Linked DNA regions of Homo sapiens: region 2 is linked to region 1. The links come from fine-mapping of genetic effects on plasma protein levels. A gene starts in region 1. The other region holds a variant in brackets. All regions are shown on one strand. Distances are from middle to middle.

Region 1 (5,386 bases):
CAATAGTCCATTGAATGGCAGCTGGGCGCAGTGGCTCACATCTGTAATCCCAGCACTTTGGGAGGCCGAGGCGGGTGGATCACCTGAGGTCAGAAGTTGGAGACCAGCCTGGCCAACATGGTGAAACCCCATCTCTACTAAAAATACAAAAATTAGCCACTAGTAATGCATGCTTGTAATCCCAGCTACTCTGGAGGCTGAGGCAGGAGAATTGCTTGAACCTGGGAGGTGGAGGTTGCAGTGAGCCGAGATCGCACCATTGCACTCCAGCGTGGGCAACAAGAGCGAAATTCCATCTGAAAAAAATATATATATATATAAGTCCATTGAATGATGGATGCTCTACAGATGACCTAACTAGTTTCCTATGAAAGGTAATTTGATTGTTGCCAATACTTAGGTTGCTGTTTTAGAAAATTATATAGACTGCGCTATGAATTTAAACAAGAAGGAACTTGAAACCACTACTGCAAAATTATAATTGAAACAGTGAAAGAGATTGGACCTAACCAACTCTATCTTATTTCTAACTTCTAAGCTGTCCTTACTCATTCTTAGGCATAGGCTGAACTAACTTTGAGGAGGAACATAGTTTATAGTTTAGAACAAAGACAATAACAGCCCTTTCCCAAAACAAACCTTCTTTCCTGGGGACTGGACCGCCTTTGCAGGACTAACAAATTAGCCAAAAGATTAGAAATTATGGTTTAGGAGTCATACAGCTGGAGGCTGTATGATTCTGACCCTCCCCAAATTGCTCCTGGGAATAACATCACTATTGTAAAGCCTAAGACCAGTGCTTCAGATATGTTGCAGACCCTGCACTGGATGGATCAGCAGGCACCACTCAGCTCGATAAACTGGCTCATCTGATCCCATGGCCCCCACCCAGGAACTGACTTAATGCAAGACAGCTTTGACTCCCTATGATTTCACCTCTGACCCAAACAACCAGGTCTCCCGACTTACTGGCTCTCCTCCACCCACCAAATTGTCCTTAAAAACTTTGATCCCCAATGCTTGCGGAGACTGATTTGTGTAATAATAAAACTCCAGTCCTCTGCACAGCCGGCTCTACGTGAATTTCCCTTTATGAATTGCAATTCCCCTGTCTTGATAAATCAGCTGTGTCTTGACAGTGGGCAAGGTAAACCCATTGGGTGGTTACAAACTGTGTACCCAAGCAATAAAAGTAACAATTTGGGAAGTATTTGAGACCCACCAACCAAAATTTCTTTAACAATTTTGGTCTATTCAGTCATTCATCCATTCATGTAACCACTATTATTGGGTGTCAAGAACTGATACTTACTTAGAACGTTAAGAGCATTATTCATCTTGACATACCAAATCATCCGAGTTACTGAAAATTGGTTTACTAGGTTCCTTACAAAGAGGTTGCTTGGATTTATAAAATATGAGGCAGTTGACCCGAGACAAGGACGTAGAAAGTGGTTCATGTACCCAATTTTTATTTTTCACTTTGAACCCAGAACATTCACGACTCCAGGCCAGAAATTCAAGACTCTGCAGCTAGTTCTGACTCCAGTCCTAGGGTAACAAGCCCACCAAGAATCCAGGGCAGATGTCCTGAAAACCCTTCTTGCGGGGTCAGGAGGGCAGCAGAATTTTGGGACCAAATCTCAACAACTGGTTTTGGTTTCCTCACTCACCAAGCCACAAGCCTGCAGAGTGAGAAGAGGTAAGGAAAGGATGAATGGGCAATGGAGCCAGCCCAGGACCGGGAGCTGGTCCTCTCTAACAGCGACCCCGCCCGCTTTAGCTGAGCGACCCGGGGCAGGTTACATAGTGTCTCTAACTTAAGCCACGTGTTTCTCGAGGAAATGCTGAGAGGATCTAATGGGAAAACGTGGGTACACGTCTTAGCTAAGACCCTCGCCCACGATAAGCCCTTAATAAGTAGTTATTTTTCAGTGGTGGTGATTACCATCGTCATTATTGTTTTGTATTTGTAATCATCACTGCCACGACCATCACCGACCTCTTTTACGCCTCCACCGGGATCCCCACCTCCCAGCCTGGCAGTTCCAGGCTCTGGTGACTCATTCACTTCCTGGAAGTCCTCTAGGCAACACTTTCCTCTCCCGAGTGACGACTCCTCAGAAGGCAGGAGATCCCCCCCGGAAACCTTTCTCTCTCCGTCTCTCCCTCTAACTCAAATCTCTCATTCCCGAGTCCAAACTAAGAGAGACTCGCGCCCCAGGAGTCAGCCAGCGGCGCGGGCGCCTTCCCCGCACGCCTCTGCCGTCTGGAGGACGCAGGCGGGAGCGCCCCGGACCGGGTTCACGGTCTCGCACTCCTGCCGCCGGCGCCCCGCGGTCCCGCCCTAGCAGGCTCCTTCCCGGGCCCCTCCCCGCTCCCTCCTCTTTCTCGCTGCTCAGTCACATCTTTCTCTTCCTTCCACCCCGAGGGACCATGTCGAGGCTCAGCTGGGGATACCGCGAGCACAACGGTGAGCGCCTTTTCCTGATCCAAGGGGGGGTTTGTGCGGGGGACGAGAGGACTAGCGCGACGCCCCGGCGCTCGCTGACCACACACTGGGCTCGCACATTGAGAAACTTTTTCGGTTCCTCTTTAAACTAAGCAGCACTCCTGGGAGCCCAGTGCGAGAAGCGGAGAGCAGTCTTGTCAGGGTAGACGGGTTGTTGGTGGTGGATGTGAGCGTTGGTGTGTGTTATCTCTGTCAGGATTCCCCAAACTCCCAAGTGTTCATACGTGTGAGTTCACCTTCATCTGAAAAGCCAAGGACTTTGCCTAGTAACAGCCACGTATCAATTACAGGCTTGGAGATCAGAAGTCTGATGACACACTTCAGTGAAATAAGGACAAGTTCGCTTTCAGTCTTTTAAGCTCACTATTCACTTAGGAGAAACAAATCATAGAAAATCTTTAAAAATATATTTAGGAAATCTTAACTTGCATTGTGACACTGAAGATTAAGTTGGCTTCGTGGCAAACAAAATACTGCATGTTTCCTAATAGTTGTTACTGTAAATATTCCCACAGCAATTTGCAGTTGGCTGACTACTACTGGGGACTTTAGTAAGGGTTCAGGTTCTCGCTGGGAAATTAAGTTACATTGTGGGTTACTTCTCCACTCTTCTTCTCCACGCTCATCCTTGCAGGGTGAGCAAAGGATTACTGAAATTATAATTCATTGATAGAAATGTATTAATAGGATAAATAATAATGACATACACTTTTCTTCTTGTATATCACACATTATCAAAAGTAAAACATTTTTTCTTGTTCCTACGTTAAACTGAACTGATTGTTTAAATAATAATTATTTGAAATAATCGCAGTGACACCAAAAAGCCTTATAGTGAATAACTGTCAAAATTAAGGCTTAGTTTAGCCATTCCTCAATGTGCATATATTTCAAAACATCATGTTGTACACATAAATATATACAATTTTTGTCAATTTAAGAAGTAAATACATAATAAAGAAAAAAATTAAGGCTGTGAATAATAATGCTTTCCTTCTATTAGCATGTACATGATTAAACAGTATAGAATGGTCAAATTTTATAGAAAGTTTAATTTCACAAACTAACAGAAAAATTCTATTTCTAATTGTAGCCTGTTTAATTTCTAATTGTAGCCTGTTTTTAAACATGCTAGTTTAAAAATGGCAGCAGGTGAAATTTATAACTTTAATAATAAAAGGTGTATAGTCAGATTTCTTCTTGATTAAGGCCATAATTATAATCTTACATTTTGCTAATTTCCAGTGAATGTTTAGGGGGAAAATATGACAAATCTTTTTTCATTTCCCTCTCTGCTGAAGTCGTTTTTATTGGAGTTATTTAATAGTCATTGAATCCCAACTGCGCCTTTATGGTAGTTAGGAAGAAGAAGGGTATTTCAATCAATCAATCAATGGATATTGATTACTCTTTAGTAGGTTAGAAATTATTCACCTGAATGAAGCTTATTTCAGCAATTTTAAAAATTCATCTTAGCAAAGCCATTAATAAGGAGTGATTTTGTATTTCTGTTAGGAATTGTTCTGTTAGGAATTAGCCATTCCTTTCTTTTAGATGCGATCTCTCTCTGAAGACCACATCCTTACTTAAAGGTGTGGTCTTCAGAGAAAGATTGGGAAAATCCTATTGGAAATGTATTATATACTAACTAGGCAAGTTTTTTGTTTGTTTGTTTGTTGTTTTTGAGATGAGTCTTGCTCTGTTGCCCAGGCTGGAGTGCAGTGGCACTATCTTGGCTCACTGCCATCTCCCTCTCCTGGGTTCAAGCGATTCTCCAGCCTCAGCCCCACCAAGTAGCTGGGATTATAGGCATGAGCCACCATGCCTGGCTAATTTTTGTATTTTTAGTAGAGACAAGGTTTCGTCATGTTGGCCAGGCTGGTCTAGAACTCCAGACCTCAAGTGATCTGCCTGCCTTGGCCTCCCAAAGTACTGGAATTACAGGCATGAGCCACAGCTCTGGGCCTAACTAGGCAAGTTTTTTGTTTTTTTTTTTTTTTCTGTTTAAACATTGGTAAACCAGTGACTGAGCAGATAAAAGGAAACTTAAGCTGGGAATAGCAACACTGATAAAATAAAACATCAAGACTTGAAGCCCTGAAAGGGTACTGCCTTCACAAATAACTTAGGATTCTTCCCCTAACCTTTGACTACTTTATTAGTTTAGTTTAGCGAATGTGACATCACTGAAAAGTGTATATCACTGTAGGTATTTAAAAGTTCCTAAATCAGTTGAGCAACCACCACATATCTCTAATTAAGAATTATGCTGGCTGGGCACGGTGGCTCATGCCTGTAATCCCAGCACTTTGGGAGGCCAAGGTGGGTGGATCACCTGAGATCGGGAGTTCAAGACCAGACTGACCAACATGGAGAAATCTCGTTTCTACTAAAAATACAAAATTAGCTGGGCGTGGTGGTGCGTGCCTGTAATCCCAGCTACTTGGGAGGCTGAGGCAGGAGAATTGCTTGAACCTGGGAGGCAGAGGTTGCAGTGAGCGGAGATCACGCCATTGCACTCCGGCCTGGGCAACAAGAGTGAAACTCTGTCTCAAAAAAAAAAAAAAAAAGAAAAAGAATTATGGTGGCTTGCACCTGTAATCCTAGCTACTCAAAAGACTGAGATGGGAGGATTGCCTGAGGCCAGGAGTTCCAGACTAGCCTGCAGGGTCATGGGGGGGACAAGGAGAAGGAGGAGAGGAGGAAATTTTTTTTGGAAAAATTGAAAAAGGGGACCTCTTTAAGAGGCAGGGTACTGAACTGACTATGGTAGTTAGTAGATAATATTGGGAATGTGATACAAACAATTATTACTTTTATTTTATTTTGGTTTGACTTCTTTTTAAAATAGTTCTGTTTATAAATGACTGGAAA
Region 2 (5,386 bases), 440 kb before region 1:
TACCTCAGAGATGGGCTTTTCCCTGTAAAATGAAGGCTTCAAGATCAGCTTTAAGAAGGAGTTAGATTGAGATAAATGTAAATGATAAATAGATCATGCATGGGAAAAAACAGTATTCTGGTATAGATATATAATGCTAAGTGTACCAAAGCAAAGCCAAATCAGATGTGTCTGGACAATACTTAGTTTTTCTGGAATGAAGTGTTTATTGTTTAGTTAGAGAAGCAGTAAAGAATGACATGGAAAACTGGTGAGGGCATGTTTGTGAAGATCTTAAAAGTTTGGGTACCATCTTCTTATGATTAATGAAATCAAGAAAGGTGGTAACACAAAAACATTTCAGGTGAATATGTTAGTAGGATCAGAGGTTGAAATGGTGATGTAGAGAAGGAATTCAAATTATTCTGAATTTCTAAATCTAGGAAAATAAATAACTTGATATGTATTAAAAGTAAAGAAAGCCTATTTTAGGAGGTTGTTTCCAATTCCTTCCAACAAAATAATATCTCACACACTGGCATACTTTTTCTATAAAGGCCACATAGCAAATATTTTAGGATTTTGGACATGCAGTCTGCTCTGCCACAACTACTCAACTTGTTGCCGTAGCACAAAGCAGCCTTAAACAATATGTAAATGAAGTCACATGGCTCTGTTTCAGTAAGCTTTATTTACGGACACTGAAGTTTGAATTTCATGAATTTTCATGTGTCACAAAATATTATTACTCTTCTTTTGATATTTTCCAGCTACTTTAAAATGTAAAAACCATTCTTAGCTTGGGGCTATACACAATCAGAGGGTGAGCAGGATTTGGCCACAGTTTGCAAACTCTTGGTTTATAGAACATCATCAGAACTTTCAATCCAACATCATTTTGAAAACTTTGAATTTCTTCTGAAGTCTTCTCTTGAGCATTTGGAAGGAGCTGGTTGAAGTGGGCTTGAAGTGGTAGGAGAAGGGGACAACTATTAATAACTAGCTAGTCAGACAAATCATACTAACCACAGGGGGCAGTAGGACAATATATGTCCCTGTATGCTCTAATCCAACAGTTGCTTGTCTGAAACCTTCAAAAAAAAAGAGAGAGAGAGAGAAATCAATCAATAAATACTACTGCAAACAAACACATTCTGAACTCAGTATTTTGATAATTGCAGAGGGAAAATCAAAAGTGGTGGGCTTTGCTTTTATTCAAGTTGCTTATGCCACCCTAAAGTGGTGCAATGCAGTACTTGCCCAAAGGAAGTGAGTGGCAGCATTGATGGAAGCTTAGTGTGAGAGCAGTGTGTAAAGTTGAAGTGACTTTGAACAAAGAATTTCGGAGAGACTAACTAGGCTGGGGTAACTAATGAAAACCAGGCTGGGAATGGAATGCAGAGGGGGACATGAGAGTCCCAAAGGAAAAATTGATGGGACTTGCTAACTAATGAGACATGGAGGCTGAAAAAAGAGAGAGGAGAAAGATATAAAACCTTTCAAAAGATTCTCATTATATTATTCAGTGCCACTAAGAATCACATACCAGTGAGAGGCAAGGGGGACGATGTAGTGTATAGAAAATGGGGAACATAGGAAGCTGGAGAGTAGCACTTCAAACAAGCAAATCACACACATACACTAATGTCTGATAAATGTCAGGCTGAAATTATTGGCAAATACAGAGAGAAGGGATCCCATTAATGCCCACATGCTATCTTTATTTCAAGTATTATCAGGTGGAAAATAAAGTAGTACCATTATCGTGTTGATGGTCTAAATATGTGAACAATCTCCTGCATCATATTATGTAGAATCCCCCTCATTTCTTCAAGGCAATTTCCTTTTGATCACTTGGCACTGGTCATGTCTTATAAAGCAAATATATCCAAACATTTTTCGTTGCTTCAGCTTTTCCCTCCCTAGTTCTGTTTGCTTATGTAGATCACAAATGTATGAGAAAAACAAACACAATAAGGCAATTAATGTACCTACAGTTAGAGATGTGAATAATATTGGAATTCAGAAAAGGAAAGGTTACATAAATAAACCTCTCCAAACTCTTAGCACCAACTATTGGTTTTATCTGCTTCTACCCTACCTAGAGCTGTCCAAAGGGATTGCTAAGGCACTTGCTTCCTAAAAATCCCTTTTCTGCCATTATGATTCACCCAAAGCAGCATGGTATATGGCGGAGATGCATGTCAGCTCTGCCTATAAATGCACCAAGGCATATTTCTCATAAGCACATTTTTGCCTACACAGAATGAAATAGAGACAAAAAAGTAATTAGTGCCTT[C/A]GTTGTTTGGACTCACATTTATAAAAATAAATGTTTAGCCTAATTCTAAGATAGTCATTTCAACTGTCTTTCTTAAAAATCTTAAACACCAGGATTTAGTTAAAAATATCTTCAGTTCGCCTACATTTCACCCTTAATTGTATCTTAAGAAACCTATAATGAAACTAGCGTGGCCAAAATACACTTACCAACAGGTTTCCTTAATTATTATCTAGGAACTATTTAGAAGTGGATGCTTTCCTGATTTACTTACATGTTGTAAAAAAAATGGAAAGTTAATTTATGAAATTAGAAAAGTAGCTGAAAGTAAGCCTAGCCCATTTTATAATGAGAAAAATAAAACACAGAATATGTTTTAAAGTGGCTTTCTCAAATGAACCACAACCTTCAGGATTAGACTTTCCCTTTGAGATATTGAGGTACAGAAAATACCAAGTTTTTAGAAGCACAAAGGAGGCTGAAGGACCCAAATTTGTGAGCTGACACTACCCCACCCTAAGGGGTGTTAAGACCAATAAATAACTATATATGGTATGCTGCTTCTCTCTTCTGAGTAAATCAGTTATTCAACTAACATGTAACAAGCACATTATAAATTATTTCACTATTACAACAACCACAAATAGATATATAGAAACGTCTACAAACAAATTACCATGTATAAAGAAAATGAGTAGATACAGAGAGTGCAATCAGAATTAGATTAATACTATGATCATCTTAATATATCAGTTAAATGTTATGTCCTCATTCCAAGACTCTCATTTTATTTAGCTTCTGCATTAATCCAGCTGCAAATTGAATTAGTCCAGATTAGGTCTTAGTATATTATTTATAGCTTTTTACTGGTGCTACATTATGCATTTTCATCCAAACAAGTATAATAATTTTGTCAGGTTCATGTAAAAGCAATTTTTGAATATACAGCAAATTTTTATATTAAAAGAAAATTTTCATATTTTTTCATAGACTTGAATCAAAGGAACCTTTCCTGTCTGTTGGGTAAGTATATATTTAAATACTTTAAGTATTAATTATTTAATTCAAATTTCCAAGAACTTCTGAGATGGTATTTTCAGTCATTTAACATCATATTCAAAATCATAACATATCAGTGCATGCAACATTGCTATCTATGTTTTATAAAGACTTAACTAAAATGCTCCCTAGGTTGTATTGTGACCTCAGAAATGCAGCTAATGAATGTATATGAAATCCTGTATCTTCCATAAAGGCTAAACAAGGTACACAGTGATCATCCATATTCTCTTCATGTAAAAATATACTCAGATTGGTTTTAAAAATTCCTCTGAGCCATAGCTCCACCATTCCAAGCCTGTCTACCCATTGCCATTCTCCATTTCTTTTCAATCTACTCTATTCACTGTTTCGTCACCCACTTCCCTAAGTCTGTCTTCACAATCAATATCTATCTTTTCTCCTTATCTCTCATTTCACTTTAATTTCTCCAGTTCACTCACATTGACTGCTTCTTTGCACCCAAAGCTGAGGAACCCTGAGGCAAATTTAGATAAGACGAACGCTTGCCTGCTCTGATGGTATCCTTCTTAGTCACAATACATATCTTTAAGAATAATATATTGTTGGCCAGGCGCGGTGGTTCATGCCTGTAATCCTAGCATTTTTGGGAGGTGGGCGGATCACCTGAGGGCAGGAGCTCAAGACCGGCCTGGCCAACATGGTGAAACTCTGTCTCTATTAAAAATACAAAAATTAGCTGGGCATGGTGGCACACACCTGTAATCCCAGCTACTTGGGAGGCTGAGGCAGGAGAATTGCCTGAACCTGGGAGGCAGAAGTTGCAGTGAGCCAAGATCACACCACTGCACTCCACTCCAGCCTGGGTGACAGAGCAAGACTCTGTCCCAAAAAGTAATAGTAATAAAATAATAACAATAATATGTTTTTGACATGAGTGCACATGTTCTATTTTTAGGCATTTCAAACTAAGAATAAGCAATGTTGTTTGTATCTGATCAAATACTCCTTTGACTAACATATTAAAGTGTATTATGAAAGGACTTTTGCACTTTCAATATTATAGATGATATTGTATGAAAAAGTTGTGAAAAATGCAATGTCTTGCCTAGAGAAATCATGCTATATTTGATGAGGGAAAAAAAGCTGTCATATATAGGCAGCCACAATACTGATGCTTAATGACCAGAAACATGGAATGGGGTTAGATTTTTAAGTGACCAGATCAATTTTCTTTTATTACTTTGTACATGGTCATTGAATATTTCTATCAATCACTCATTCAACAACATGGTTCCCAATTCCTTTCTACTCTTCATAAAAGCTTTTCAGAAAGCCACTCAAATCATGGAAATCAAAATAATTATTAGGGGATGTGGAAGACAAAAAATGGAATATATGCATTTATTTGAAGACTACATGGAAAATGAAAGGTCGAGTTGGTCTGGCCCAAAAAAAGTGATAAAGCATGCTTTTTTCCCTACATTGATCATCAGCTCCTATTGTTAAAAATCTCTACACCTGAAGAAATCTTTTAGTTTGAATGCATGTGTATTTGCCCTCAAGTCAAAAGGCCTGAAATAGCTTCTCTTCACGCCTCACTTCATGTAGTTTCTGTGCAGCCTTTACTGTTCTCCTGGCTATTATGAGATGGAATTCCTTTTTTATTGCATACTTCTGTTTTAAAAGGCAGACCCTAAGTAATCTTTGTTTTAAATTTATCAACAGTTTAGCACTGATTATTAGAACCCTGAGAAAATCTCTCCAAAAAAAAAAAAAAATACTGTATCGCTCAGCCAATGCTCAAAGTGGGAAAATTAGCATGGCACACATAAGATACTGCTTATGTCTTAAAAGTAAAGTGGTGTGAAAGGCAACCCAAATGATTCTGCTGAATGGATATTTTAATTTATAGCTAAATGTTTCTGTTCCCTCAAGAAAATTATTTTAAATAAGATTGTCCAAAAGTATGTATGCTAAGGTGGGCGACTCACTTGAGTTCAGGAGTTCGAGACCAGGCTGGACAACATGGTGAAACATCATCTCTACAAAAAATTACAAAAATTAGCTGGCCGTGGTGCCGTGCCTCTAGTCCTAGCCACCTGGGGG

Direction of the effects. Alleles are on the strand shown, and positions count from the first base shown. The strength of an association depends on the size of the effect and on how common the allele is.
For the plasma level of the protein whose gene starts at base 2,066 in region 1, C is the high allele of the variant in region 2 and A is the other (moderate association).

The links. PIP is the posterior inclusion probability: the model's chance that the variant is causal. Protein levels are from antibody-based Olink assays in UK Biobank. Linkage for the fine-mapping came from a reference panel and not from the study's own genotypes, which makes the PIPs less certain.
Region 2: its variant is fine-mapped to the plasma level of the CA13 protein (UK Biobank, PIP above 0.99).

Annotation. Positions count from the first base shown.
Region 1 is chr8:85,243,393-85,248,778 of GRCh38, forward strand. It overlaps CA13 (carbonic anhydrase 13), which reads left to right and starts at 2,066. Exons shown (of 7, transcript NM_198584.3): 1 at 2,066-2,473. The coding sequence starts at 2,437. It overlaps LOC105375936 (a long non-coding RNA gene), which reads right to left and starts at 93. Exons shown (of 3, transcript XR_929126.3): 1 at 1-93. RefSeq lists a silencer at 2,321-2,400 and an enhancer at 2,761-2,870.
Region 2 is chr8:84,801,523-84,806,908 of GRCh38, forward strand. RALYL (RALY RNA binding protein like) reads left to right here. Exons shown (of 9, transcript NM_173848.7): 4 at 3,248-3,280. Among named protein-coding and RNA genes, the nearest start is that of LRRCC1, 300 kb to the right of the region's middle. The variant C/A (reference allele first, on the strand shown) is at 2,279.